7 linked regions of the Homo sapiens genome follow. The protein of the gene in region 7 purifies or fractionates together with the protein of the main gene of each other region. This does not show direct contact. Each region holds a gene or a part of one and is shown on either strand. Other genes may lie near its edges. The genes, in order: P4HA1, NNT, PDHA1, STAM, FAM186B, LRPPRC and EMC8.

Region 1 (4,568 bases), on a different chromosome or scaffold from region 7:
ATCTCGGTTCACGGCAACCTCTGCCTCCTGGGTTCAAGCAATTCTCTGCCTCAGCCTCCCGAGTAGCTGGGATTACAGGCACCCGCCACCACGCCCGACTACTTTTTTGTATTTTTAGTAGAGACAGGGTGTCACCATCTTGGCCGGGCGGGTCTCGAACTCCTGACCGGGGGTGATCCATCAGCCTCGGCCTCCCAAAGTGCTGGGATTACAGGCATGAGCCACCGCACCTGGCCTGCAGTTACTTCCTTTAACCTCAAAGATATTTTGAAAATAGACCTCAATTTACTATGCCTGAATTTAAAAAACCTTAATATTGTATTTGAAAATAGTGAATAGTGACCATTGCCACCAAGTAGAGTGATAGTAATAAGTAAAACACTAATCTTTGATATAAGGGTGATTACTAATAAATTGAATAAACTGATATATTTTAACGACTTTATTGAGCAAAATTGACAGGACAAATTGCATATATTTACAGTGTACAATTTGATAAATTTGACAAAAATATCTACTTAAAAAAATATCAGTACAATCAAGATAAGGAACATATCCATCACCTTCAAGAGTATCCTCAAGGTCAGGCACAGTGGCTTAGGCCTGTAATCCCAACCCTTTGGGTGGCCGAGGCAGGAGGACTGCTTGAGCCCAGGAGTTCCAGACCAGCCTGGGCGACATAGAAAGACTTCATCTCTACACAAAATAAAATAACATTAGCTGGGTGTGATGGTGCCTGCCTGTAATCCTAGCTACTTGGGAGGCCGAGGCAGGAGGATTGCTTGAGCTGGGGAGGTTGAGTCTTCAATGAACTGTGATTGTGCTACTGTACTCCAGCCTGGTGACCGAAATGAGTCTCTGTCTCAAAAAAGAGTATACTTGGCCAGGCGCAGTGGCTCACACCTGTAATCCCAACACTCTGGGGGGCCGAGGCAGGAGGACTGCTTGAGCCCAGAAGTTCAAGACCAGCCTGCGCAACATGGTAAAACCCTGTCTCTACAAAAAAATTAAAAAGCCAGGTGTGGTGTTGTGTGCCTGCAGTCCCCGCTACTTGGGAGACTGAGGTGGGAGACTCACCCAAAGCCTGGAGATTAAGGCTGCGGTGAGCCAAGATCACGCTACTGCACTCTAGCCGGGGCATCGGCAGTATCCTTATGACTTTTTGTAATCCCTTCTTTTGCTCCTTACTACCCTCTCTGTATCCCTAGGAAACCATTGTTTCCTTTCTGTTGCTTAAGATTAGTTTTTATTTTCTAGAATTTTATAAAAATGGAATTGTATATACGCTTTTTTTTTTTTTTTTTAGCACGGGGAATCTCCTTACACTCAGCATAATTTGAGATTCATCCATGTTGTTATGTGTTCATAGTTTTTTATTGTTGAATAGTATTTTATTTTATGAATATACCATGATTTTTTTTAACCCATTTACCCTTTGATGGACATTTGGATTGTTTTCACTTTTTGACTATTATGAATAAAGCTGCTATGAGCATTCATGTACAAGTTGTTGGAGAGAGATATGCTTTCTTTTCTCTTATATTAATGCCTAGGAGTGCAATAGCTAGATGTGATAGGGAAATATTTTTTCCCAGTTGTTGGCTTGTCTTCATTCTTTAAACAGTGTGCTTCAAAGAGCAGTTTCTATTCACAGACAACATGTCTGTGACTCTTCAAAAAAGCTCTAGTGAATAGGTTAATTCAGCAGAGTTGTAGCTTAGAAGGTCAATATACAACAGTAAATTGTATTTCTATATACTAATAATGAACAATTAGAAACTAAAGTGAAAAATTCCCATCTCATTAGCACTAAAAACCATGAAATACTTAAGTATTAACTTTTCAAATGGTGTGTAATATTTGTATGTTGAAAATTATGAAACACTGATTATATCATGTTCATGGATTAGAAGACTCAGTATTAAGATACCTACTCTTCTCAAACTGATTTATAGATTCAGCACATTTCTAGTCCAAATCTCAGAGGATTTCTTATAGAAATTAATGAGCCGATTCTAAAATTAATATGGAAAACCAAAGGAACTAGAAAAGCTAAAACAATTTTGAAAAAGAATAACAAAGTTGGAAGATTCATACTACCTGATTTCAACTTAGTTTAAAGCTGCAATAACCAAGACTGTGGTATTGGAGAAAAGATAGACATACAGATCAATTGAACAAAATAGAGAATTTAGTCACACAAAAATTGTCAATTCATTTTGAAAAAGTTTAAGGGCAGTTCAACAGAGGATAGTCTGGAACAGTTGAATATTCATATGCAAAGAAAAAACAATCTTTGTTTTATTTGGGCACCAAGTATCCACTGTTGGACACTGGGCAGTCCCTTGCCCAGGAATTTATGTGAATATTGGGACAAGTGACATGAATCCACCAGTGGATATGAAATAAAGTTTAATCACACAGTAAACAGCAAAAGGACTCCTCAAGGTCAAGGACTTAGGTTTAGTCCAGGATGAAGCAAGAGTGAAACAGGGTGGGTGGCTTTGGTTTTTATTGACCAGAAGGTGGAACTTGTTTGATGGTCCCCATGTGTGGTATTTACATGGTTTCAACTTCACACCAGTACCAAGGGAGGGAATACTGGTCCCCAAGTGTGGTATTTATATGGTTTCAACTTTACACCAATACCAAGGGAGGGAGTACCTGGGCTTTCTTACAGACTTACCCAGATGTGGGACAAAAGGGAGAGAGGTGTGGGACCTGAAGGCAATCTGCACTCAAACATCAAAATGAAATCTTTTTATTAGAGCCTCAATCTGTACTTGACACTGTATGCAAAAATTAGTTCAAAATGGTTCGTAGGCCGGGTCTGGTCGCACACGTTTGTAATCCCAGCATTTTGGGAGGTTGAGGCAGGAGGATTGCTTGAGCCCAGGAGTTTGAGACTAGCCTTGGCAAGAGTGAGACCCGTTTCTATTTTAAAAAATGTTCATAGATTGTGAAGTAAAATGTACAGCTATAAAATATTTGAAAGAAAACATAGGACAAAAATATTTTTGACCATGGGTCAGGCAGAGATTTCTTGGACATGATGCCAAGAACATGATTCATAAATGAACAAACTGATAAATTAGACTTCATCAAAATTAAGAAATTCTGCTCTTCCAAACACACTGTTGAGAGAATAAAAAGACTTCACAGACTGGGAGAAAATATTCCCCATCACATATCTGACAAAAAATAGACTGTATAAGGAACTCAAAGCTGGGCATGGTGGCTCACGTCTGTAATCCCAGCACTTTGGGAGGCCAAGACTGGAGGATTGCTTGAAAATCCAGGAGTTTGAGACCAGCTTGGGCAACATAGCAAGACCCCATCTCTATTAAAAAAAGTAAACAACCTAATTAAAAAGAGCAAAAGATTTGAGTAGACACTATGCAGGAAGGTGTATGAACAGCAGATAAACACCCCAAAAGGTGTTAAACATAGGCCAGGCATGGTGGGTCATGCCTGTAATCCCAGCACTTTGGGAAGCTGAGGTGGGTGGACCATCTGAGGTCAGGAGTTCAAGACTAGCCCGGCCAACATAGCGAAACCGTCTCTACTAAAAATACAAAATTGGTCAGGTGTGGTGGCACGTGCCTGTAATCCCAGCTACCTAGGAGGCTGAGACACGAGAATCACTTGAACCCAGGAGGTGGAGGTTGCAGTGAGACAAGATTGTGCCACTGCATTCCAGCCTGGGCGACAGAGTGAGACTCTGTCTCAAAAAAAAAAAAAAAAAATAAAGGCATTAAACATCATTAGTAATTATGGAATTGCAAATTAAACCCATAATGAGATAGTACTATATGTCTATTGTGAAAATTAAGATATTAAGAGAAACTAAGGAAAAAACGGCAATACAAAATGCTGGTAAGAATGGGAGCAATGGAAACTTTCATCCTTTGCTGTTGGAAGGGCAAATAGTGTAGCTACTTTGGAGAAACGTTTGGCAGTTTTTTATGAAGGTAAATATATACTTGTCATATGACCCAACATTCCCGCTCCTAGGTATTTACCCAAGTGAAATGAGAACTTAGGTTGATTTCCTCTTTTTTTTTTTTTTTTTTTTTTTTTTGAGATGCACTCTCACTCTTTTACCCAGGCTGGAGTGCAGTGACACAATCTCGGCTCACTGCAACCTCCACCTCCTGGGTTCAAGCAATTCTCCTGCCTCAGCCTCCCAAGTAGCTGGGATTTACAGGCATGTGCCACCACGCCTGGCTAATTTTTGTATTTTTAGTAGAGATGGGGTTTCACCATGTTGGCCAGGTTGGTCTTGAACTCCTGACCTCAAGTGATCTGCCTGCCTCAGCCTCCCAAAGTGCCGGGATTACAGGCGTGAGCCACCGCTCCCAGCCTGTTTTCTTTTTAATTTTTTTAAAACAGTTTTATTGAGTAATAATTCACGTACCATGCAATTTTCCCTTTAAAGTATACATTTCAGTGGCTTTTAATATATTCACAGTTGTGTTACCACAACAATCAATTTTAAAACATTTATATCACTCCAAAAAGAAACCCCAGAGCCAGTAGCAGTCACTCCCATTGTCCCTTGCCTAACC
Region 2 (3,500 bases), on a different chromosome or scaffold from region 7:
CTCCCCATTGCAACCCAGGCCCTCTTCTCTATAGCCAGTGCTTTCTCCTGAGCACATAAGAAACACCTGGAACATGAAGAAGACCTTGGTTTTCAGGTGGGTAGGTGGGAGCAAAGTCCCAAGGTAAAGAAATGCAAAAATCTGGGCAGTAAATACCCAAATTAGGAGCCTCTGAAGGAACTGCATGGCTATAGGTAGGTGATACAGAAGGAGTGGGGCTCAGAATATTTGCTAAGATCATGTCTAAAGGTTTTCCTGCCATGAACCTACAGAGCAAACATTTTCCTTCAAGTCCCTTTCCCCAGAGATTATCAAGAAAAGAGTCAAAGCTTTCCTGAGGAAGTATAAAAGGAGGCCTAAAGCCAGTGTTCCACTGGGAAACATTTAATAACCAGTTCCAGGGGAAAAAAATACATGCACATACAAATACATGAGCTTTAACTGATATAAAGGTGGCTAGCACACAATTTTCAAATAATAAGAAATAGTGCTCTTTACTGAAAATTCCATGTAGACAAATTGACTTTCAAAGAATGTTTTTATGGATCTTTGCTAAACTCTTACATCTGTAGCCAACCTAGTGTTTGCAACTGATGAACAAGCATACTTCCAACAGGAACATTGTTTGATATTTTTATTTGCTTTAATAAGTAAGACGAAAGTAAAACAACAGAATGTATGCGAGAACTTCACTCATTTATCAACCATATGAATGACTTTATTGCTGAATCTGATAATAGTTTTCAAATACTGGAAGATTATTTGCTCAATTATTTGTGCTATTCACAATGTCACAGCTACAGTCAAAACATCTCAAGTTTAAGCTGCATCATTAACATTTTCTCCATCACTTTCTCACGTCTGGACAATAAACAAAACAATAAATCAAGCCCAGATTTGTAGCGTTTGCTTATTTCCACACTGCAATACTGCTACCAAGTCAAATTTCAATCTACCAATGTGATGTCATTGAATGTAGAATTGGAAAGAGATGTACCACAGCCCACTGATACATAGTATTTCTTCTATACACATACAATAGACATAAGTAACCTCAAGAGCATAGACAATAAAACCTAGTAAATTAATTAGAAAGTTACGAGTTTTTAATATTATTAACTTTGTTTCTGATTCATTTAAGTTTATGTAATTTAGTATTTAATAATGGCTGTGTTTAACAATCAACTTTAAAAATTCCTGGAAAAAAAATTTTTTTTTTTTTTTTGAGACAGAGTCTCGCTTTGTCACCCAGGCTGGAGTGCAGCAGCATGATCACAGCTCACTGCAACCTCCACATCCCAGGTTCAAGCGATTATCATGCTTCAGCCACCCAAGAAGCTGGGATTACAGTTGTACGCCACCATGCCCAACTAATTTTTGTATATTTAATAGCGACGGGGTTTCACCATGTTGGCCAGGCCAGTTTCAAACTCCTGGCCTCAAGTGATCCACCCACATCAGCCTCCCAAAGTGCTGGGATTACAGTCTGAGCCACCATGCCCAGCCTAAAAATTCCTGAAAATTTAACAATCCAGCAAACAACTGAATAAAATTAAAACAGTAGTTTTTCTGCTGGCACATGTTTTTTTTTTTTTTTTTCATTTTTAACAGGTCTATGAAGCAGAATCTTTGGCTGTTATTTATACCCAGCAGAACAAAAGTTAGCTTATGTATAGTACATACATAAGGATTCCAATCCCCCATTCCATTATCAGCTAACGGGACACAGTCAGTAAAGGAAGATAAGAATTGAGTATAGGATATTTTGACTCAGTTGATGCATTTATTCAGTGTTCTAAAATGTATTTGAATGAGAATTACACCAACTGGAATGAATTTTCACCAAAATAATATTAACTGAAGCAACTTCCATGAACAAAATTTAATTATTTCATCAATATGGACCTTAGAAATATATATTGAGAAACTGGAGTTCACATGAAGGCAGAAGCCCACAAGTGCTTACCAATGGTACCACCCAAAGCCATCGCTCCAGACATCTGAGCTAGTAATTCTGGGCCCGGTTTTAGGACTCCGAGGGTGGCTGCCAGTCCTCCAGCAACCCCAATCATGCCCAGTGCATTGCCAAGACGTGCTGTTCCCTGGGTGGAGAGGCCAGCCAAGGCACCGACACAGCACAAACCCGAGCCTAGGTACATGATCTTTTCAAAGGAAAAGTGAGAGAGAGATTATTAAAACCTTTGGTCTATTAGCTTAGAGATTTCAATATATTTTCCTGCCAATTAGGAATATTAACATATTAAATACTTATATTGTATTTGCACTTATACCATTTATATAAATTGATTTTTTCTGGATTTGCTATCATGCACAAATACACATAAAAGTACCTAAATTTAAATGGAGTCATTACTGGATCTAAAAATACTAAACCTGACCAAATGCTGTAAAAGAGCCAACCCCTGAGGTAAGTGCCAGGGGCTTTGCCACATGTTTTATTTGTGTTGTCACAGTGTCATGAGATCCACAAGAGGGAAAAATCATTATCCTCATTTTGCAAAAGACAGAATCAAAGCTTAAAGAAGTTGCATATTTTCTCCAAGGCAAATGATCAATAAATTGGAAATCTGGAATTCAGACTAAGGTCTTTCTGACTCACTGCTCCAACTCTTCTCAAAAAAAAAAAAAAAATTGTTCATTCAATAAATACTGCAGGTTGGAAACATAGAAGAAACTAAAAGACAGCCATTGAAAAGAAATAGAAAATACAGAGTTCAGAACAAAGCTGAAGGTCTGTTATATTACAAGTTGGAACTTTCAAAGTCCAGCTGGATTATTTCTGTTTTTCTATACAACATTAAGTTTAAACTATCCTTTTCTTTATGGATTTTTTTATGAATATATAACATCTCTTAGTAGCAAGAGATGATGTGCTGGATTTGTAGAGGAAGAATAGGAAAAGAACTAATAGTACTTAATAATAATTTTTCAAATTTTGTATTGTTTCATTATAAATCCACCGCAATCTAGCTAGATACATAATGAAGATACTGATAACCTTAACTCCTCTTACATGTGGAAAAATGTATCAAAACAAAGACATAAACCCATATTTAAACTCAGTTACCAGAAAAATCTGTCTCTAGAATCCAGGGTCCTGATCCTTAGGGGAAGAGAATGCTCAGTTTGACCAAGATGTTTCTAGGGTTATTGTTGTATTTGCTTGACAGAGTTGTATTTGCTCGATACTTTGAATTAGGATAACTAACAATGTTAAATCTAATAGAGAAGAAAATATTGTGGTAAATATAAAAACTTACAAAGAGCATCTTACCTGTTCAATGTTATAACCACTGTAGAGGGCAGCTAAATATCCACCAACAAAGGTGCCGGCAGGGAGCAGGTACAGGTAGTTGTATTCTGGGGGGTCAGTGGGACGCTTGAACATGTCCAGCATTCTCTGAGTCACCAGAAAGCCACCTTAGCAAACCAAAGGAAATAAAAAACATAGTACCTCTTTGAGCTCACTGAGCAACATG
Region 3 (3,997 bases), on a different chromosome or scaffold from region 7:
TGGCTCACGCCTGTAATCCCAGCACTTTGGGCAGATCACGAGGTCCACAGATCGAGACCATCCTGGACAAGATGGTGAAACCCCGTCTCTACTAAAAATACAAAAAATGGTTGGGCATGGTGGCACGTAACTATATTCCCAGCTACTCGGGAGGCTGAGGCAGGAGAATTGCTTGAACCCGGGGGTGGAGGTTGCAGTGAGCTGAGATTACACCACTGCTCCAGCCTGGGCGGCTGAGCAAGACTCCATTTCAAAAGGAAAAATAAAACCTAGGTTTAAAAAAAAACAACACATAATAGAATCTTAATATATTAGAAAGGAAAAGAAACAGTCCGGATATAATTTTGTGCTGTTAATTCTTCATCATTCACTAACTGATGAGAACAAGGACCCCAAAATGAAGTTGACAAGATAAAGCAATTAATGTACTGAAATATAAATAGGAAGGGGAAGGTATGGCTCCACTGCTAGAGGTTCCTGCTTACTTATAAAACAGCAGACACCTAAAAGGAAACATTATAAATCACCATCCAAATCTACTCATCTCTCAAACGGTAGGATATGAAGCACTAGGTCTTTAAAAGCAAACCAAGCCCCCAAAATAGTCACGCGTCACTTAACAACAGGGATATATTCTCAGAATTGCATCACTAGGCGATTTTGTCATGTGAACACCATACTGTAATGCACGAACCTAGATGGTACAGCCCACTGCACACCTAGGCTGTATAGTAGAGCCTACTGCTCCTAGGCTACAACCCTGCACAGCATGTGACTCTACTGAATCCTGTAGGCAAAATATTTGTGTACCTAAACGTAGAAAAGGTAATGTGTTGTGCCACTACAACATCACTAGGCGACAGGAATTTTTCAGCTCCATTATAATCTTATGGGTCCAACATCATATATGCGACATTGACCAAAGCGTCACTGTGCAGCACATGGCTGTACTACTTCAGGAAAAGTTGTCTGGGGCTGTGAAAGTTTTTGAAGACAAAGTCCAGGGCCAAATCTAAAGCAGCACACAATCCTCGTCCTTGACTACCTGCGCTCCCACGATGCCATTGCCCCCGTAGAAGTTCTTGGCATACATGTGCATCGATCCTCCTTTCCCTTTAGCACAACCTCCTTTTCGTCCTGGAAATGGCAGAACATACACATGTGCAGAACAAACCAACTCTACAAAGCAAACCAAACCGCACCCCAAATATGTACTCTGAGGCTCAACCATTAGAACACAGAGGCCAGTTCAGTCGTCTAAGTACCTGTCCCTCCAGGCAAACACATGTTTCTCCTTGTCCTTTCACTAGTTCCATGTGCTTCAACCTTTCCAGCTTTTCCTACTCTCTAGTCACTTAGTTTCCTTCAGATGTTCCATCCAGATGATACCCTGGACTTTTCTGGGTTTTCTGGCCAGTTACAAACATCTTAGGACCTCTCCTATACTAGTACACTAAATATATTCAATCCTTGAACAGGGTTTGAACTGCACAGGTACACTTATACACAGATTTTTTTTCAGCCACACATGTATTGAAAATAGAATATTCTCAGGATGCAAACCCGAAGATATGGAAGGCTGACTTTGGGACTTGAGTATTTGAGGATTTTTGTATACTCGAGGGTCCTAGAACCAATCCCCTGGATATATAGAGGGACAACCATAGTTCAAGAGTCAAGGAGGGCCGGGCACGGCGGCTCACGCCTGTAATCCTAACATTTTGGGAGGCCGAAGAGGGTGGATCACCTGAGGTCAAGAGTTCAAGACCAGCCTGGCCAACATGGTGAAACCTGGTCTCTACTAAAAATACAGAAATTAGCCAGGTGTGGTGGTTGGGCACCTATAATCCTAGCTACTCAGGAGGCTGAGGCAGGAGAATTGCTTGAACCCGGGGGGCGGAGGCTGCAGTGAGCCAAAATCATACCACTTCACTCCAGCCACTCCAGCCTGGGTGAAAGAGTGAAACTCTGTCTCAAAAAAAAAAAAAAAAAAGGAGGAGGAGGAGGACCGGGCACAGTGGCTCACGCCTGTAATCCTAGCATTTTGGGAGGCTGAGGCAGGCCACTGCACTCCAGCCTGGGCAACAAAGCGAGACTCTGTCTCAAAAAAACAAAACAGGCCAGGTGCGGTGGCTCACGCCTGTAACCCCAGCACACTTTGGGAGGCCAAGGCAGGTGGATCACCTGAGGTCAGGAGTTGGAGACCAGCCTGGCCAACATGTTGAAACCCCATCTCTACTAAAAATACAAAAATTAGCCAGGTGTGGTGGTGCATGCCTGTAGTCCCAGCTACTCAGGAGGTGGAGGCATGAGAATCACTTGAACCCGGGAGGTGGAGGTTGCAGTGAGCCGTGATCACACCACTGCACACCAGCCTGGACAACGGAGTGAGACACAGTCTCAAAAAAAAAAAAAAAAAAAAACCACCAAAACAAACAAATAGTCACGGGGGACAAAGAAAAGGGGAATATTAAGAAGATTTCTAGAATTTACATTGCATACCATGGAGTGCTTCAACCGAACTTACTTTCTATGACTGCTAGACTTCTTCTGGCATGCTTGAATGATAACCAAACCTACTGTGATTTTATAGCACCAACCTGTTTTAAACTTTTACCTGAGGGGCCAGAGAACTTCACAAATGGTCAGTTAACTCAAGAGCACAACAGAAGTACCAGAGCACCAAAGGAGAGAGGGTTAAAAAAAGAAACTTAAAATTTTTAACAAATATTAACTCATAATAGCATCTTAATGACAGATATTTAAAAACTTAATCCACTCATTTCCCCTTTCTGTAAATCAACAGCAAACCTGTAAGCTCTGCGAGAATTTCTCGGACGGAAAGGCCCCGGGTGAAAGTAAAGCCGTGAGCCCGGTAGGCTGTGATGAGATGGTCTGTGGGGTTGATGCCGGCCTCCAGGCCCACACAGCAAGCTTCCTGTGTTAGAGGAAGGAGAAACTATGAGGCAATATGATACATGTTTCTAAATAAAAACGTTTCCTAGACCACAGTGAAATATGTGGGCTAGTAGAACCTGTCATTAATAACCAGAGAAAGTAGCTATTTTCCACCAAAATACAGAGTGGAAGGCCCAAACCAGAAGCAATAAACTGGCAACCCACACATGTGCCACTTCCTTCCTTTCTCCTGTATGATGACCTAAAAGAAAAGCCTACATCAGATGTCAACATTAAAACACTGGGGAATTTCACATGAAAATCCAGACTTCCGCCTTCTCTTAGACATGGAAAACAGGAAACATTACCCCTGATTTCCACATGGCACCAACTGGCTGGAACCAAGTCATGGCATTCCTCTGGGTAGGGCATGCTGGTGCCAGTTCAGCATGAGTCCCTGTCACCATTTTCTGTTTTGTATACCTAGCCTTCTTCACTCATTTATTCTACCTGGCTGGCCCTTGTAGGTATTTGACTCTAACCCTTGACCTAAGCCCACAAAACAAAAAACAAACTAATCCTTTCTCTCCAAATTATATACAGTACAGGCGATCATAGTGCCAGAAAGTTTTAAAATAGTAAAACTCTAAGAACAGGTACAGAAAACTGGCAATGTTATGTGTGAATGAATTCTTTAGCCTAAGCTTCATAGCAGGTTTTGGCATTCTACTTTTTAATTCTAAAATACTGGCTTCAGCCAGGCACAGTGGCTCACGCCTGTAATCCTAGCACCTTGGGAGGCCAAGGTGGGCGGACCACTTGAGCCCAGAAGTTTGAGACTAGCCTGGGCAACATAGTGAAACCCCGTATCTCCAAAAAATACAAAAATTAGCTGGGTGTGTTGGTGTGCACCTGTGGTCCCACATACTCGGGAGGCTGAGGTGGGAGGATTGCTTGAGCCCAGTGGACAGAGGCTGCAGTGAGCCAAGATCACACTGTACTCTAACCAGAGGCTGCAGTGAGCCAAGATCACCACTGTACTCTAACCTGGGCGACAGAGAGAGACTGTCTCAAAAAAATAAATAAATAAAAGAAAATT
Region 4 (4,568 bases), on a different chromosome or scaffold from region 7:
TATTTAGTGGGCTTGCATTTTCTCTACCTATTCTAGGTGGGTTCTCTGCAGTGAGTCTACTCTTTGATAAATAAACATTGTTTCTGTTGTCAAGGAATGTATAATGTCTTGGATTATTCTGTTTAAGATTTTTCCTTAATTATACAGATTCTAGAAACTATACTGAGTAGTAAAAACCAGCTATCAGTTATGAATGAATGAATTTTCAAAGACATAATTTTTTTAAGAAAATTTTAAACCAAAATTTTTTTAAGAAGAAGAATGTCCTTTGCTTCCTTCCTCTCCCAGATACATTTTTGAGTCTTCACATCTCAAGAGTGCTCAGATAAACTGGAAATGCCTTGGGAAGAAAGCACATGTAGGTCTGGATGAATGTAGATAAGCTACATGACTCCCTGAAGTGGTCAAAACATAAGCCCCTCCACACTCACAGATTTCTGTTCATGGTTTCACATCACTCATTACAGTCTGTCCCAGTCAATAAACTGGGGAAAGACAGTGTAGTAAATCAGCACATATTTTAAGCCTCTTGATTAGTTGGGCATCCTAAAGGAAGGTTACCCAAAATAGAAATAGGAATAAAAAAGACATTTCTTGATTTTTTTCTACATGACATAAATTAGAGACTGAATTTTTTTGGCACAAGGGTGGACAGGAGAGCAAAGTTAAGCTATTTAGCCATATCCACTGGGGAAAGGAAGACTTATGTACTGGTCGGCTCTTACTAAGGAGAAAATGCTTCAGGTGCTTCTCTTCCCATTTACCCCTTCTAAAGTCCTCTCATTGTTAATAGAGGAATTCATAAATTTCCTCCACAAAAGAATCTCTCAAGTCATCCCTAACTTTTAAGGATATCCTGATTTCTGAGCTATCATTCTTTGTAGAAAATTATAGCATTAAGAGCATTTAAAAAGACAGTGTTACCTAATTAATAAAGCTATTTTGTGTATATTATTAAAACTGTACTGGCTGGGCCTGGTGGCTCACACCTGTAATCCTAGCACTTTGGGAGGCCGAGGCGGGCAGAACACCTGAGGTCAGGAGTTCGAAACCAGCCTGGCCAACATGGTGAAACCCACCTCTATTTAAAAAAAAAAAAAATTTCCAGGTCTGGCTGCACGTGCATGTAGTCCCAGCTACTCAGGAGGCTGCGGCAGGAGAATCACCTGAACCCAGGAGGCAGAGGTGGCAGTGAGCCGAGATCACGCTACTGCACTCTACCCAGGGCGACAAACAAAGACTCCGTCTCAAAAACAAACAAACAAAAACTATACCAAAAAATTTCAAAAACTGCAAAATGTTAAACCAATTCGTTTATAAAGAAGTAGAGAGGTTAGAGCACATTAATATTCCATTATAATACTTTTCTGGCACCTCTGAATGCCAGAAAACTAGTATTACTAACTAGCAATACAACTAGTTACTAACACAATTAGCTAACGAAAATTCCTCTGAAGTAGTAAAAATTACCTGGGAATGAAGAAAAAAATTCAAATAAATATAGCTATTTAAGAGAAACAAACTGTAGCACACACACAACTTCATTCCCAAAATACCTGAGAGCCAATAGCTGGGAACGTAACTCCTTGTTCCTTAAGGTTCTTAATCATTGCTGATATTAGACTAAGCTGTGGATCATTCTTAAATTCATCTGTCCATTCAACCATAAGAGCCTTTAATTTTTCACATACTTTAGGATGACCCTGTAAAATAGAAAAAGAAATAAAAGAGCACCAATTTCCTAGCCAATGATTTAATACAGACATTTTAAATAGTAAAGTTATTAAGTGATGTTTTTTGAATCACAAGTTATGCATAGCTATAGACAAGAAAATATAGTTATTCGAAATAAAACTAATGTTCACACTATGAAAAAACCCATCATATATATCTCACTTCAAATTAAAGCATTAAATAGGTAATAAGATTTTGGAGATCTGAAAGGACTTTTCAGAATATTTTGCAACGAAGCAAGGTTTGTACATCAGTAAGACAAGGAAAAGTGTCTGCTTTTTGCAAAGCAATAAAAAAGTGGGAAGGAGAGAATAAATGATACAGTTCCTTTATTCCAAATTCCTGACTTCTTAATGTTCATGACTATGCATTTTTTCCATGATGCTTAATTATCTGGGGCCTAGTTTGAGGTACACTGCATGTTAATCATTTTGAAAATTTAATTTCTTCAAAATAACATAACTTTTTTTCCTTTCTTTTCTTTTCTTTTTTTTTGGTTTGTTTTTTGAGACAGAGTCTCACCCTGTGGCAGAAGCCGGACTGCAGTGGCTCGATCTCAGCACACTGCAACCTCCGCCTCCCAGAGGGGGGTGGGGGATGCGGTTCAAGCGATTCTCTTGTGTCAACCTCCCGAGTAGGATTACAGGCGCGCACCACCATGCCCAGCTAATTTTTGTACTTTTAGCAGACGCGGGGTTTTACCATGTTGGCCAGGCTGGTCTTGAACTCCTGACCCCAACTGATTCGCCCGCCTCAGCCTCCCAAAGTGCTGCGATTACAGGCATGAGCCACCGTGCCCAGCCCAAAATAACATAACTCTTTATGGTTGATGTATAACAAAGATTCAAGTTAGTCTAAGGCAGGTGTGCAGGGCATTATTCTTCCGTATTAAAGAAAGAGATAAATGTAGTGAGTTTTCAAAATAAATTATTTTACTCATTGCTTATTAAGGGAAAAAACCTGGCCAGTTCATTAAAATACTGATGTATCTTCATAGCGGCAATAATTTGAAGTCTTACTATTTGATGTAATAGATATAAAGAAACCTTCACAGATACCAGAGAAGAAATAACTCCTCTATGAAATGTCATGAATGTATTTCAAACCAATGCTTACTAAATAATTGGCTAAAGCTTTTAAAAATGGAGAAGGTTAGACTTTTAGATTACTCTATTAGAAGAAAAAAAATTCTTTCTAAGTGCACATGTAATCTGTATTTTGGTCAAGGAGCATATAATGGATTTGCAAACGCTTTATTGAGACTATACATGAACTTAATTTGTTTAATAAAAGGAAATTTTTTAAAAGGGCAGGATGTTGGCTGGGCGCGGTGGCTCATGCCTGTAATCCCAGCACTTTGGAAGGCCGAGGTGGGCAATCACAAGGTCAGGAGTTCGAGACTGGCCTGACCATCCCCATGGTGAAACCCCATCTCTGCTAACACTACAAAAACCAGCCAGGCGTGGTGGCGCATGCCTGTATTCCCAGCTACTCAGGAGGCTGAGGCAGGAGAATCACTTGAACCCGGGAGGCAGAGGCTATAGTCAGCTGAGATCACGCCACTGTACTCCAGCCTGGGTGACAAAGAGAGACACTGTCTCAAAAAAAAAAAAAAAAGGCGGGATGTTATTAAGTACAAAACCAATATGTTCACTGTAAAACATTCAGAAAATAAAGAGAAGTCCTCTTGCCTATAGGAAGTCGTTTTTGGAAATGGCTGCTTGCACTATTATACATAGGTAAGTATACCACATTTTTCACCTACATTACAAAAAACATGGTATTAGAATCTCTTCATAAACAGTTGTAATCTCGATGGACATTCAGGACATTAAAAGACAATGTTTATTAATTAGTAGAAAATAAATATTAACTGCATAAAGCAGGAAAGGGAAAGAATTATCATTTAACCATGATGTTCGAAAAGTACAGAATTTTACATTCTTACTATATTTCTATACTGCTATTTTTCTACTGTAACCTGGAACTATTCATTTTTCCCAAAAACATGAGGCATTTTCCCTTTTAACATACAAAAACTTTTTCTTGATTTACAGTACTCCCCCTAAAAAGGCCAAAAATAATTACTTTTAGAATGCACAAATTTTTACTGGGGAAACTCACATATTACTAATTGAAAATTGAAAAATTTCTTGAACTGTGTGACTAGAATTCTACAGTTGAGTGGGCAGTTGTAGGGTCCCCAGTTCTCCCTGCTTTCTTTCTGTGTCCCAATAGAAAAACAGAGTGCCTTGTCCCGCTCTGTGACCTAGCCAGCTGCATGTTTTCCACCATAGGTTTGGACCCAAACTGGGGCCTTGAACATTCTCAGGCACTGATAAAGTTGTTCAGGTTGTGGCCCAAAACACTAAAAGATCAAGTATGTTGCTAAACACACAGAAACCAGCCCCAACCCTGAGCCAAATTCCTTAAACCCTCCTATAAACTGCAGCCCTCCTGTGTAAGTTCCCCTAATAAATCCTTTAGACTGATCACCCTGGCATTTAGTGCCTCTTTTTTTGGACTCTCATCTGGCCCTATCTGGAACAGTTTGGGGCAGTCCCTTGTGGAAACTCCCCCGCCACCACTTTTGAGGCAACTCCAGCTGTGGGTTCAGCCAGTAAGAATAGCAGTATAGTATTAAAATCCTGTGATGGCCAGGAAGCAGCCTTATTGATAAAGATAAAAACTCAACGGTGCCATAGACTTTTTGCAGTGTTTCTGAAAGGTTTTCCATTAGGAAAATACCTTGTGCCTACAAAAACAGTATGTAAAATAGACTGATATTATTTAATTAGATATAGAAATACCTGTTTTCTTATCAGATGAAAGTA
Region 5 (4,568 bases), on a different chromosome or scaffold from region 7:
ACACACTTTGTAGGTTGAGAAATCTCTGTGTAGTTGTGACTTCACAACTATACTTCGGCAAAAGCAGTAATGACGGTGGCTTCTGAACACATTAATCTACCATTGTTTTGTCTAGAGCGAACACAGTGAGAATGGATTCCTAATGGCCTGTTTCTCTAAGTGATCGTCACATTTCGCTGCTCTAGTCTTATTTTTATTTATTTATTTTTTTGAGACGGAGTCTCGCTCTGTCGCCCAGGCTGGAGTGCAGTGGCGCCATCTCGGCTCACTGCAAGCTCCGCCTCCCAGGTTCACGCCATTTTCTGCCTCAGCCTCCCGAGTAGCTGGGACTATGGGCACCCACCGCCACGCCCGGGTAATTTTGTTGTATTTTTTAGTGGAGACGGGTTTTCACTGTGTTAGCCAGGATGGTCTCCATCTCCTGACCTCGTGATCCGCCTGCCTCAGCCTCCCAAAATGCTGGGATTACAGGCGTGAACCACCGCGCCCAGCCACTTGCTGCTCTAGTCTTTAAGAACTAGTGGAGCCTTCACTTGAGCTGCCATCTCCTTGCTGCTCAGGGCTTCAACAATTGTAATCACAAACTCAAAGCTGGTCCTAGGCCCTGGGCTTATAAGAATTTCAGGCCGTCCTTTTCCACACGATTCTCAGAGTAGGTGTAATGGCTTCCATTCATCATTTTGTCCTTAGCAAGCGGGAGTGTTGTAACTTTACTTCCAAAACTGATCTCATGAGCCATCAGAGCAGTAGGACCTGCACAGATAGTGGCTATAAGGCCCTTCTGGTTTTCCTGCTCCTTTAGTATCTCCTTCACAGAAGCAGACTCAGGTAAATTCTGTGCACCCAGATTACCTCCTGGTAGAACTACTATGTCATATGGTCCCTCTTTTTTTGCATCTTCAAGACTGGCATCAGGACAAATGAAAACATCAAGGCTACACTGTACTGGGTCTTTTCCAGCCAGACCTGCAATGGTGACCTTAATCCCAGCTTGCCTCATGACATCTACAGGATGACCGTCTCCATTTCCTCTGCTCCTTTAGCCAAAAACTCAAAATAATAATTTAAAACTCAGGTTATATGTTTTCATGCTATTGTAGAACTATTTTATACTAAGACTTTAATTTATACAACGTGAATTTTCCTAACAATAATGTGAGCATATTTTCATGTGCTTATTTGTCATCCATTTATCTCCTTTGGCAAAGCATATTATTGGGTTGTAAAAATTCATCCCATATTCTGGATGCAAGTTCTATACCAGATCTGTATTTCGTGGATATTATCTTTCAGTCTGCGGCATTCCTTTTTTTTTTTTTTGAGACAGAGTCTTGCTCTGTTGCCCAGGCTGGAGTGCAGTTGTGCTATCTTGGCTCACTGCAACCTCCACCTCCCGGGTTCAGGCGATTCTCTTGCCTCAGCCTCCCAAGTATCTGGGATTACAGGCATGCGCCACCATGCCCAGCTAATTTTTGTATTTTTAGTAGAGATGGGTTTTCACCATGTTGGCCAGGCTGGTCTCAAACTCCTGACCTCTGGTGATCCACCCACCTTGGCCTCCCAAAATGTTGGGATTACAGGCGTGAGCCACCACACCCGGCCTGTGTAAGATATTTTGAGAGCAAGAGACCAACCACATTCACGTAACTTTTATTATAGTATATTGTTAAAATTGTTCTATTTTGTTATTGTTATTAATCTCTTACTCTGCCTAATTTAAAAATTAAACTTTATCATAGTTAAGTATATACAGGAAAAACAGTGTATAAAGGGTTTGGTACTGAGGTTTCAGGCGTCCACTGGGGTTCTTGAAATGTATCCCCCAAGGATAAGGGGGATCTACTATATGCAAAACCGAAAGCTATACAACAATGAGAAACATTAAGAGGGAAATTCAGGTGTAAGTGAAGACATTCCTCTGAATTCCCAGGTTTCACTGAGCATCAAAACCCACCAATCTTTCAGTCCTTTTCTTGAATATTATTCTGTATACACATTCTCTGCATCTGATTGGATCCCTGGATTTTATTTCATTTTCTGCATGACATCCTCCACAGATATATATCATTGGCTGCTGCCTTGGGGGTTGAATGTCCTGGGTGTCATTGTGAGCCCCTTTTTACTCTGAGTGTCTTTCTAGTTTTGGCCCAAGTACCCACCACAAACTCCAACCCACCAATTCCCTACCTACCCAGCACTGAGAAATGGCATCTTAATAATATTTATTCTTTCAATTCATGAGCATGCTGTATATCTCCAGTTATGTCTATTTATTTCAGTTTTATAGGTTTATTATTCAAATACTCTGAAGCTCTGTAATTAGGTGCATACACATTTAAGATTGCTTATGTACTCTTGAAAATTTGACCTTTACTATTTATTTTTATAGAGATGAAGTTTCACTATGTTGTCCAGGCTGGTCTCCAAATCTTGCCCTTAAGCGATCCTGCCACCTTGACCTCCCAAAGTATTGGGATTACAGCATGAATCACCTTACCTGGCCCAAAATTTGGACTTTTATCCTTATGAAATGGCCCTCTTTCTTTTCTTTTTTTTTTTTTTGAGATGGAGTCTTGCTGTCACCCAGGCAATGCAGTGGCACCATCTTGGTTGGCTCACTGCAAACTCCACCTCTCAGGTTCAAGTGATTCTTGTGCCTCAGCCTCCCGAGTAGCTGGGATTACAAATGCCTGCCACCACACCTGGCTAATTTTTGTATTTTTAGTAGAGACGGGGTTCGCCATGTTGGCCAGGCTGGTCTCCAATTCTCAACCTCAGGGGATCCGCCCACCTGGGCCTCCCAAAGTGCTGGGATTACAGGCATGAGCCACCCACACCCGGCCGTTTGTTTCTAATTATATTCCTTGCTCTTCAGTGTACATCAGTATTGATATAGTCACTGCAGCTTTTTAAATATTTTTTACTATTTGCATGGTATACCTTCTTCCACTCTTTCACTGTTAACCTCTGTGTCTATATATTATTTACTGGAACACTTCATGAATTTGTGTGTCATCCTTGCACAGAGGCCATGCTAGTAGTCTTCTCTGTATTATTCCAACTTTAGTATATGTGCTACCGAAGTGAGCACTGTGTCTCTATATTTAAATTGGGTTTTTAATTGATACCTTATAGTTGGGTCTTGCTTTTTTATGCAATCTGTCAATCTCTGCCTTTTATTTGGTGGTTTTAGGCTATTTATATTTGATGTGATTATCAACGCAGTTGAGTTTAAATATATAATTTGCTCTTCATTTCTATTTGTCTAATCTGTTCTTTGTTTTTTTCCCTCTTTTCCTGCCTTCTTGTGGAGTAACTGAGCTTTTCAAGTAAATTCATCTTATCTCCACTCCTGACATATTACATATTAGCCATACCTCTTTGTTTTGTTATTTTTTATTTTTATTTTTTGAGAGAGTCTTTCTCTCTCTCCTAAGCTGGAGTGTGGTGGTGCGATCTCAGCTCACCATAACCTCCGCCTCCTGGATTCAAGCGATTCTCATGCCTCAGCCTCCTGAGTAGCTGGGATTACAGGCACCCGCCACCATGTCCGGCTAATTTTTTTGTATTTTTAGTAGAGACACGGTTTTGCCATGTTGGCCAGGCTGGTCTCGAACTCCTGGCCTCATGTGATCCACCCGCCTCAGCCTCCCAAGGTGCTGGGATTACAGGCTTGAGCCACCATGCCCAGCCTGTTTTGTTATTTTATTATTATTATTTTTTGAGACAGAGTCTCACTCTGTTGCCCAGGCTAGAGTGCAGTGGCATGATCTCGGCTCACTGCAACCTCCAACTCCCAGGTTCAAGAGATTCTCCTGCCTCAGCCACCTGAGTAGCTGAGATTATAGGTGCACACCACCACGCCCAGCTAATTTTTGTATTTTTAGTAGAGACTGGGTTTCACCATGTTGGTCAGGCTGGTCTCGAACTCCTGATCATGTGCTCTGCCCACCTCGGCCTCCCAAAGTGCTGGGATTACAGGCGTGAGCCACTGCACTCTAGGGTTTACAATATAAATCTTTAACTTATCATAGTCTACTTTCAAATAATATTATTTCATGTGTAAGAACCTTACAATAGTATACATCTATTTCTTCCCTCCCGGCCTTTGTCCTACTGTTGTCATACATTTTGTCTCTATGTAACTTATAAATCCCCTAATGCAGTTGGCCCTCTGTATCTATGGGTTCTGCATCTGTGGATTCAATCAACCACAGATCAAAAATATTCGGAGAAAAAAATAGATGGTTGTGTCTGTGCTGAACATGAACAGACTTTTTTTTCTTGTTATTCCCTAAACAGTATAACAACTACTTAGATAGTGTTTATATTATATTAGGTATTATAAGTAATCTAGAGACCATTTAATATATACAGGAGGATGTGGGTGGGTGATATGCAAACACTGCACCATTTTATATAAGCATGTGAGCATCCACAAATTTTGGTGCCTGTGAGGAGTCCTGGAGCCAATACCCCACGGATAGCAAGGGACAACTGTACATTGTTATTACTTTTCCCTTAAGCAAAGGGAAAAGAATAATCTATTTACCCCCACACTTAACATT
Region 6 (4,568 bases), on a different chromosome or scaffold from region 7:
AGATAAATACTAGTAAGATGAGCCATGAGGAAGTAATTATAAATATCTTTCTTGGAGGTTGGTGATGGCTAAATTTGCAGCCAGAAAAATTCAACAGAAACTTGATTATTATACAGGGCACATGCCCTCAGGACCTCCTGAGGCTGTGTCACAGTAAAAAAAAAAAAAAAAAAAGAAAAAAATATATATATATGTTTTTTAAAAGAAAAAAAAAAGACACTTGATTATCCTATTGTTGAAAACTCTTGGTTCCACTTTGTCTGATCCCCAAATATCTTTGATTTTCTGAAGAGATGTATTTATTCCTCATGAAACACAGCACATCCTCCATCACTGCAGTCACTTTCTTCTGTGATTTCTACCATTTTATACGTGACTTTCACTGGACAAAGAACAAGTTCATTGCACTAATAAGAATGTTACTTTCTTACCTTACACTAAAGAAACTATAAAGAATACATACAGCCATTTCTCTGTTATATAAAAGAAGACTGTAGAATATATACTTTACTATCTTTCAGGACCTACTGCAAAGAAGAATATATTGTTTTTAAAAATTGTAAAACTGACAATCTTTTGCACTCTCAGAACACACAATATAAAAGCATAAACTTTTATATTTTTTCAGACAAAACCTTCATCGATTAAAAAATTCACTCTCTTTTAGCAATGTTATTCGTGTAAAAACTGGCAACTAATTTTTAAACAGCAGCTAAGAATTTTTAGAAAATAAACACAGTATAGTACTTACAAAAGCTGAATATGGAAGGGTTATAGTATAAAAAAGGATATTTTAAAAGGAGGACAGAAACCCTCTATTCTAATCCCAGCCTAATCACACCTAGACGTGGAAGCTAAGGTCAGTCACTGAATGTCTGTGTGGCCCTCAGTTCCTTCATTCACGTAATGTGAGCTTTCAGTACAGCACTTTTAAAATCTAAATTCTGAGATTCTAAGACAAGATGGATTTGAGATAAAGCCCATTTTCTACTATTTCAACTGCTACAACCATAGAAAGAAATTACCTAACTCTTTTATGTTTACTAAGTAGTAAAAATGTAGTAATCAATTCAACTGTGACATGGTTGTGGAAAGCAGATTAACCTGATGAACAAACATTTCAACTGGTACCAAAAAAATTTTCATACTTGTGTAAAGGTGGACAATACTAACATGCCTGAAGAGTTTGATGGAATGATGTAAACTTTCTGTGGTTCCAAAACACTGGGTTATAGGTTACCTTTTGGAGCTTTCAGACTGGAGGATATACAAAGAGTTAATCAAACTAGCATATTGTTTTCACAAAGATTTTTCTAAAAAGGATTTAGAGACTTTTATAGCCAGAAACAATTAGGGAATACTTGTTTCACTATTTCCTTTAAACCAGAAGACGGCTGTACATTTAAAATAAAATTGCAATATGAAAGTCTGCTAAAAGCACTTTTTTTGTTGTTTGTGCATTCTGTTTGTCACCCAATGTCACACTAACAATTCTGCATCTCATTCCAAAGCACATTATACTTCGAGATAAAATGAAAAAGACCATTTTTTGTTTCCCCAAGGGGAAAGTACTTCTGTTAAAAGCATCTTTTTATGAGACTACTCTTTCTGAATTACCAATAATGCAAACCGAAGAATTAGATACTGTACTCTAAAATTTAATATTTGTTCAATTCTTATTCATATCCTATAGACATCCCATGTGTACAAGGGAAAAGTATGATAAATGCTTAAACGTACTTAAGAACCTGAAAGATTGAACATTTTTGTCCTTCAATCAGCAGGCTGTCAGGTCATGAGTACTCATTTCACAATAAAAGTTTTCCTGCCTTTCCTATTATTCTAACTAAGCTCAGTTAAAAAGAAATAGATTGGCCCACAAAGAAAATGACCATACTTTTTGTTTTCATGAACCTAATTGTATATACAACTTTATCTTTATTAAAGGTAGACAATCTGATTTCAAACACTATATATAAAATCAAGAACTAAAGAGTTTTTTTAAGAACTTAAAAAAACTACGTTCATTAAGTTTGAATATCAAGATCAGAGATGAAATAAGAAATGAAATTAATGAAATTCAGATGAAAGAAATCCATCATGTTTTGTTTTTTAAAATGCTTACACATAATACTTCATGATGACTTAAAACAATTCCATTATCTCATAATACTCAGGAATAAGTATGCTTTTCCAAAGAATCCAATTAGATGTGCGTGCAAACTGTCATACTGGCTCTGGGAACCATTACAAATCGGTAAAAGGCAAAATCTAACCTTGAACATTTTTTTCCTTCCGACGTCCAACTAGCAATGGCCAGAAATAGTGAGGTCTGATAGGAAAACCTTCCTCCTTCACAGCCTTCATTAAGGCTTTTGCCAAATCTGAAAGAGATATCATAAAAGATCACAAAGCTACCTCAGCAAAACTTCCTTACTTGGCTTTAACTTTAAGAATGTAGTACCAGTTTTATTGGCGAGTAAAGCACAATGGAGGGTGAACTGCAGAGGAAAGGAGTGCATCTGGACTTCCTTTAACTTCTTACAGTAGTCTGTTAGCTTCTCCACAGGCTGTGGGAAAAAAGTCACCACATTAGCTGGATTGGCAAACACCCCACCGTTTGACCTGCTGCAAATATTCTACCACTTCTGAGATGAGCATTTTAAACCCCGCATCCTCTTTCTACCCAAAAATCTTGCAACACAAGAACATTGTTATGATGTTTACAACTGGTCTAATCTTATAAATGTTCCTATACTTTAAAGAATCTTATTTCACTGCCAATTACATTGTCTACAAAGTAAAAGTGGACAGAATACCGTATTCATAGTCACACAGTGTTGTAAAAAGAAACTGCCAAAGACACTTGGGCCATCTTCCTTTGATACGGGGCATGCTAGTAAAATTTGCAACGCTACATCTTCCAATTTTTCAGTGACTAAAAGTAAAATGAGGTTCATTGCATCTGGGAAGAAAACAAAGACATCTTTTGTTAATAAACTGAACAATATTTTTACACTGCAACCAATGTTCCAATACTGAAGACAAAATAAGAATTGCAAACATCAAAAGCATATAACTGCCTAAATAACAATAAAACACCTGCAAATCAAATCATCCCCATGTGTTCATTAACTCATGTTTTTGGGCTTATTTAACTGACTTTAAGAGTTCTATGTTCAACTCCCACAATGCCCATTGTTAGAAAATGTCCTTTCCATCATGTAAGAATAGCAATTCAGATTTTTATAAAAATCATGTAAATAGATTTTTTTAAAACTACCTGGAATATATCTTCTTTCACATGTAACTTTTTCCAAAATTTCTGAGACATACTGAGGATACCCAGCTTTACTGAAGCTAAAAATAATTTGCAGTAAATCACGGTCCATAAGGTGAAGCTCGGACTTCTCCACCTTCTCCAGAGTCTATAGAGAGTTCCAGAAATTAGAAGACAAAGTTAGAGTGTTTTTATTTAAGTATTAAAGCTAAATAAAATATCCAGATTCAAAAAACTAGGGAAAAATACCACCTAAAGGTTTACGACTTCTTTTAAAAAACAGGAAATACTCTACTTCAACAGTAACTGTTACATACCAGCACCGAGATACTAAACTATAATAATTCTCCATAAATACTACTTTCTGCAAGGAAACATCTTTGAAAACAGGTATAAACTTCACTTTCCTGCCTCATGTAAAACATAACACAAATTTTTACAAATGATTTTAAAGTATGTTTATTTAGACATAAGTCATACCTGCTTAACATGGTCAATGTCGCCCTTCTCAGCATATGCATTCAATAATGCGAGGTATGTGTCTGGACCAGGCTCAATTCCGGCATCTCTCATCACTGTGAGAATGTTTTCTGCATTCTCCATATCACTACAAGTTAATTCAAAAAACAGATTATTATGCTTTTGCCAAATTTAATATAGTTATTCAAACTAAAACATATGCTTATTAAAATAAAAAATGCTAAGTACCATTTGGAATTATGATGTCAGAAAAGAACTAATGTATATTAAACTGGATATATGTTTCTGAAATAATAAAGATCATAAACATCTGATCCCCCATTAAAAAATAATAATAATTACATAGACATTAAATAACATACCCTCTTAATATTATGTAGGTTATGACTCAGACTTAACTTTCGAGGTAAGAATAACATTTAGTAAATTACTCTTCAAAAATAAAAATATTTTCCAGAGCAGTTACTTCAGATCAGATCAAGCCCAGTTTCTTTTTTCTTTTTTTTTTTTGAGATGGAGTCTTGCTCTGTCTCCCAGGCTGGAGTGCAATGGTGTAATCTCGGCTCACTGCAACCTCTGCCTCCCGGGTTCAAGCAACGCTCCTGCCTCAGACTCCCAAGTAGCTGGGATTACAGGCACCTGCCATCATGCCCGGCTAAATTTTTATATTTTTGTAGAGACCGGGTTTCACCATGTTGGCCAAGCTGGTCTTGAACTCCTGACCTCAGGTGATCTGCCCACCTCAGCCTCCCAAAGTGCTGGGATTACAGGCATGAGCCACCACGCCCGGCTTCAAGCCCAATTTCTA
Region 7 (3,500 bases):
AAACAAAAGCATTGAACCGGTTCCCTCTAGCTGCTGTCCAGCTTCCCTCCTCCCTTCCATGACTGTTTCTTCAACTTCTTTAACAAGCCGCTAGTCTTGCTCCATGTCCTCACCACAGCTCTGTGCAATCTGCCATCTAACCCATTCCCTTGCAGAGCAGCACTCCGGAAGTCTCCTGACCACTGCCTGATGGCCCCAAGACTGCTACCCCCTCAAAAGCCTCCCAGCGGGAACCCACCACTCTCAGGCAGGCCAGTCCATTTCCAGCCTCTCCGACCTGAGGCCACCTTTCCCTCTGCTCTTCCCCACCCTGCAGGCCACAGGTCCTTTCTCTGCCCTCCTTTCCTGCATTCTCCCTGTCATTTATTTCCTTCAGTCTCTCACCTTAGGCAGGGGCTTCTAAAACTGCTTCCTAACCGGTCTCATAATTTCTACGGTCACTCGCTCGCTCTCTTTTTTAAAGAGACAGGGTCGGCTGGGTGCAGTGGCTCACGCCTGTAATCCCTGCACTTTCGGAGGCCGAGGCAGGTGGATCACCTGATGAGGTCAGGAGTTCGAGACCAGCCTGGCCAACATGGTGAAACCCTGTCTCTACTAAAAATATAAAAACTAGCTGGGTGTGGTGATGCACATCTGTAGACCCAGCTACTCCGGAGGCTGAGGCAGGAGAATCGCTTGAACCCGGGAGGCGGGGGTGGCAGTGAGCTGAGATCATGCCACTGTACTCCAGCCTGGGCAACAGTGAGACTCCACGTCAAAAAAAAAAGAGACAGAGTCTCGCTTCGTTGCCCAGGCTGGAGCATGGTGGCTATTCACAGGTGTGATCATGGCCACAAACTCCGGGTCTCAATCAATCCTTCCTGCTCAGCCTCACAAGCAGCTGGGACCACAGGCACGTGCTACGAAGCTCAGCTTAGGCTCTTCTTATCCGATGTAACCTGAAAATTCTCCTGAACTAAATTTTCCTAAAACAGAACTTCCATCACGTCCCCTGGTGCTCACAGCCCCACAGACTACTGCTCACCACTGCCTGCAAGATGAAGGCTGCTATTCTCAGGCTGGCAGAGGCAGGCCTTCGTTACGGTGAACTGAGCTACCGTGTGCAGCCACAGGGGCAATGCTGTGTCTTCAATGTCAGGAAATCTGCCTACATGTCATCTGCCTCACATGCCCGTCTTGTTTCACTCACACTGTCCCGTCTGGCCCTCCACACCAAGGCCTCCTTACTGAATTGCTTCCCCTCTTTCAGTGCCCAGAAGACATGCCACCCTCACCACAAAGCCCTGCTAAACCCTGGATGAGACCCCCTGCCCTGCTGGAGTTCTGAGGATTTATTTCTAAGAGGCTCTAACACAGAGTCCATGGCACGTGCTGCTTTCCTTCTGTGCATCCTGTCTGCCCTGCACAATCAAGGCTTTCAGCTTTTTGTGGCAGGGACCAAGCCATCCATCTTTCTTTTTTTTTCTTTTTTTGAGATGGAGTCTCACTCTGTCGCCTAGGCTGGAGTGCAGTGGCGCGATCTCGGCTCACTGCAAGCTCTGCCTCCCGGGTTCACGCCATTCTCCTGCCTCAGCCTCCCAAGTAGCTGGGACTACAGGCGCCCGCCACCACGCCCAGCTAATTTTTTGTATTTTTAGTAGAGATGGGGTTTCACCGTGTTAGCCAGGATGGTCTCGATCTCCTGACCTCGTGATCTGCCCGCGATGGCCTCCCAAAGTGCTGGGAATATAGGCGTGAGCCACCGCGCCTGGCCCCATCTTTCTTTTAACAGCCATAAAAATACATGCATTATTGTGAGTTATTTAACAAAGCACACTATATACAATTACAATCCTTCCCTTGTGATTAGGCTAAAAAAAATTAATAATGTTTTTAAAAAACAAATTATTTTATATGATTATTGTATTTTCGTTTTCAAAATTGACAAAGTGATGTACTGATTATAAATCTGCAGTATTAAGAAAAATATGACTTAAAAATGTGACTGTGTTAAGAAAAATATGACTTAAGAGGGAAGGGGAGGTTTTCAGGTAGAAGCCAATCGTACTGAAGAAAGCAGTGCGATGGTGGCTCCTAGCGCAGAGGGAAGGCAGTGCTTCACTGCACTGACCAGGACTCGGTGGGCGCCAGGTCCCCACAGCACTAACGGCAAGTGGTGAAGAGTGGGTACAGAGCCCTCAGGAGGCCTGCCCATGTACCCACCTCTGCCTGCTCCTGCATTTGCTGAGGAACTTGGAAAGCAAAAGGCAGGGCCGCTTGCCATGAAGAGCTTGCAAAGCCCTTACCCTCCTACTTAACACTGATCATGCTGGTTGTTGATTTTTATTGGGGAGAGGGTAAGGAAACACTCATTAAAAAGAAAAACTACCATTGCAGATGCTCAAGAACTCTTAACATCTGTCTTTCTATTCACTGATTTTTGAGATGGGGTCTTGCTCTGTTGCCCAGGCTGGAGTACAGTGGCGAGATCATGGCTCACTGCAGCCCCAACTGCCCAGGCTCAAGTGATCTCCCACCCCAGCCTCCCTTGTAGCTGGGACCACAGGCGTAGGCCACCATGTCCAGCTAATTTTTGTATTTTTTTGTAGAGATGAGGTCTTGCTATGTTGCCCAGACTGGTCTTGAACACCTGGCTCAAGAAATCCTCCTGCCTTGGCCTCTGAAAGTGCTGGGATTACAGGTGTGATCCAACATGGCTGGCCTAAAATTTATTATTTTAAAAGAAGTCTAAAAATTTGTAGTTGGCCGGGTGTGGTGGCTCATGCCTGTAATCCCAGCACTTTGGGAGGTTAAGGTGGGTGGATCACTTGAGGTCAGCAGTTCGAGACCAGCCTGGCCAACACGGTGAAACCCCGTCTCTACTAAAAATACAAAAATTAGCCAGGTGTGGTGGCAGGTGCCTGTAATTCCAGCTACTCAGGAGCCTGAGACAGCAGAATACTTTGAACCCAGGAGGTGGAGGTTGCATTGAGGCGAGATCGTGCCACTGCACTCCAGCCTGGGTGACAGAGTGAGACTCTGTCTGCTCTGCCACCGCCCCGCCAAAAAAAAAATGTGTAGTTAATGAACTGTCAAAGTATTTGAAACAGCTGCCAACTTTGCATTTCTCTGTCTTAGGCACTGAATCTCCAATACTGATCCACTTGATCCTGAATGAAGACTGCCACGCTGTGGTTCCTGCTAGTCAGGAACTCCTTGTTCCTAGGAAGAGCCAGCTGCCAACTGAAACTGCAGGCACCCTGAAGGCAGACCACTCTGCTCACCCTCAACAGCACCATGTCGGGCCAGCGTGTAGGTGCCATCTTACAATGTGTATCTAAAAGCTTCCTCCTGAGTGTCTGCCTCAGGCCAGGGCTCTCTGCCGGGCACCGAAACCTACTCATATCAAATGCTAACTATGAAGCAAAACACTGGCCAACAATGAATCATATAATAAAACTTGATGGAATGACCTAAAGTTTAGGAAATTCATAAAAGTTATAAACACTACGTTAGAACAG

The links.
Region 1: the proteins of EMC8 (region 7) and P4HA1 fractionate together in Homo sapiens (co-fractionation; one large-scale study listed by BioGRID). This does not show direct contact.
Region 2: the proteins of EMC8 (region 7) and NNT fractionate together in Homo sapiens (co-fractionation; one large-scale study listed by BioGRID). This does not show direct contact.
Region 3: the proteins of EMC8 (region 7) and PDHA1 fractionate together in Homo sapiens (co-fractionation; one large-scale study listed by BioGRID). This does not show direct contact.
Region 4: the proteins of EMC8 (region 7) and STAM purify together in Homo sapiens (affinity purification with mass spectrometry; one large-scale study listed by BioGRID and IntAct). This does not show direct contact.
Region 5: the proteins of EMC8 (region 7) and FAM186B purify together in Homo sapiens (affinity purification with mass spectrometry; one large-scale study listed by BioGRID and IntAct). This does not show direct contact.
Region 6: the proteins of EMC8 (region 7) and LRPPRC fractionate together in Homo sapiens (co-fractionation; one large-scale study listed by BioGRID). This does not show direct contact.

Annotation. Positions count from the first base shown.
Region 1 is NC_000010.11:73,086,447-73,091,014, reverse strand, and holds part of P4HA1 (prolyl 4-hydroxylase subunit alpha-1 isoform 2 precursor), read left to right. Parts: intron 1-4,568. UniProt on the Homo sapiens protein: Catalyzes the post-translational formation of 4-hydroxyproline in -Xaa-Pro-Gly- sequences in collagens and other proteins.
Region 2 is NC_000005.10:43,651,680-43,655,179, reverse strand, and holds part of NNT (NAD(P) transhydrogenase, mitochondrial), read right to left. Parts: intron 3,442-3,500; coding exon 3,296-3,441; intron 2,163-3,295; coding exon 1,967-2,162; intron 1-1,966. UniProt on the Homo sapiens protein: The transhydrogenation between NADH and NADP is coupled to respiration and ATP hydrolysis and functions as a proton pump across the membrane. May play a role in reactive oxygen species (ROS) detoxification in the adrenal gland.
Region 3 is NC_000023.11:19,350,222-19,354,218, reverse strand, and holds part of PDHA1 (pyruvate dehydrogenase E1 component subunit alpha, somatic form, mitochondrial isoform 1 precursor), read right to left. Parts: intron 2,960-3,997; coding exon of another isoform or gene 2,939-2,959; coding exon 2,812-2,938; intron 1,138-2,811; coding exon 1,046-1,137; intron 1-1,045. UniProt on the Homo sapiens protein: The pyruvate dehydrogenase complex catalyzes the overall conversion of pyruvate to acetyl-CoA and CO(2), and thereby links the glycolytic pathway to the tricarboxylic cycle.
Region 4 is NC_000010.11:17,685,162-17,689,729, reverse strand, and holds part of STAM (signal transducing adapter molecule 1), read right to left. Parts: intron 1,704-4,568; coding exon 1,557-1,703; intron 1-1,556. UniProt on the Homo sapiens protein: Involved in intracellular signal transduction mediated by cytokines and growth factors. Upon IL-2 and GM-CSL stimulation, it plays a role in signaling leading to DNA synthesis and MYC induction. May also play a role in T-cell development.
Region 5 is NC_000012.12:49,591,627-49,596,194, reverse strand, and holds part of FAM186B (protein FAM186B), read left to right. Parts: intron 1-1,736; exon of another isoform or gene 1,737-2,115; intron 2,116-4,568.
Region 6 is NC_000002.12:43,971,331-43,975,898, forward strand, and holds part of LRPPRC (leucine-rich PPR motif-containing protein, mitochondrial precursor), read right to left. Parts: intron 3,888-4,568; coding exon 3,761-3,887; intron 3,429-3,760; coding exon 3,284-3,428; intron 2,966-3,283; coding exon 2,820-2,965; intron 2,571-2,819; coding exon 2,465-2,570; intron 2,385-2,464; coding exon 2,277-2,384; intron 1-2,276. UniProt on the Homo sapiens protein: May play a role in RNA metabolism in both nuclei and mitochondria. In the nucleus binds to HNRPA1-associated poly(A) mRNAs and is part of nmRNP complexes at late stages of mRNA maturation which are possibly associated with nuclear mRNA export.
Region 7 is NC_000016.10:85,782,545-85,786,044, forward strand, and holds part of EMC8 (ER membrane protein complex subunit 8), read right to left. Parts: intron 1-3,500. UniProt on the Homo sapiens protein: Part of the endoplasmic reticulum membrane protein complex (EMC) that enables the energy-independent insertion into endoplasmic reticulum membranes of newly synthesized membrane proteins.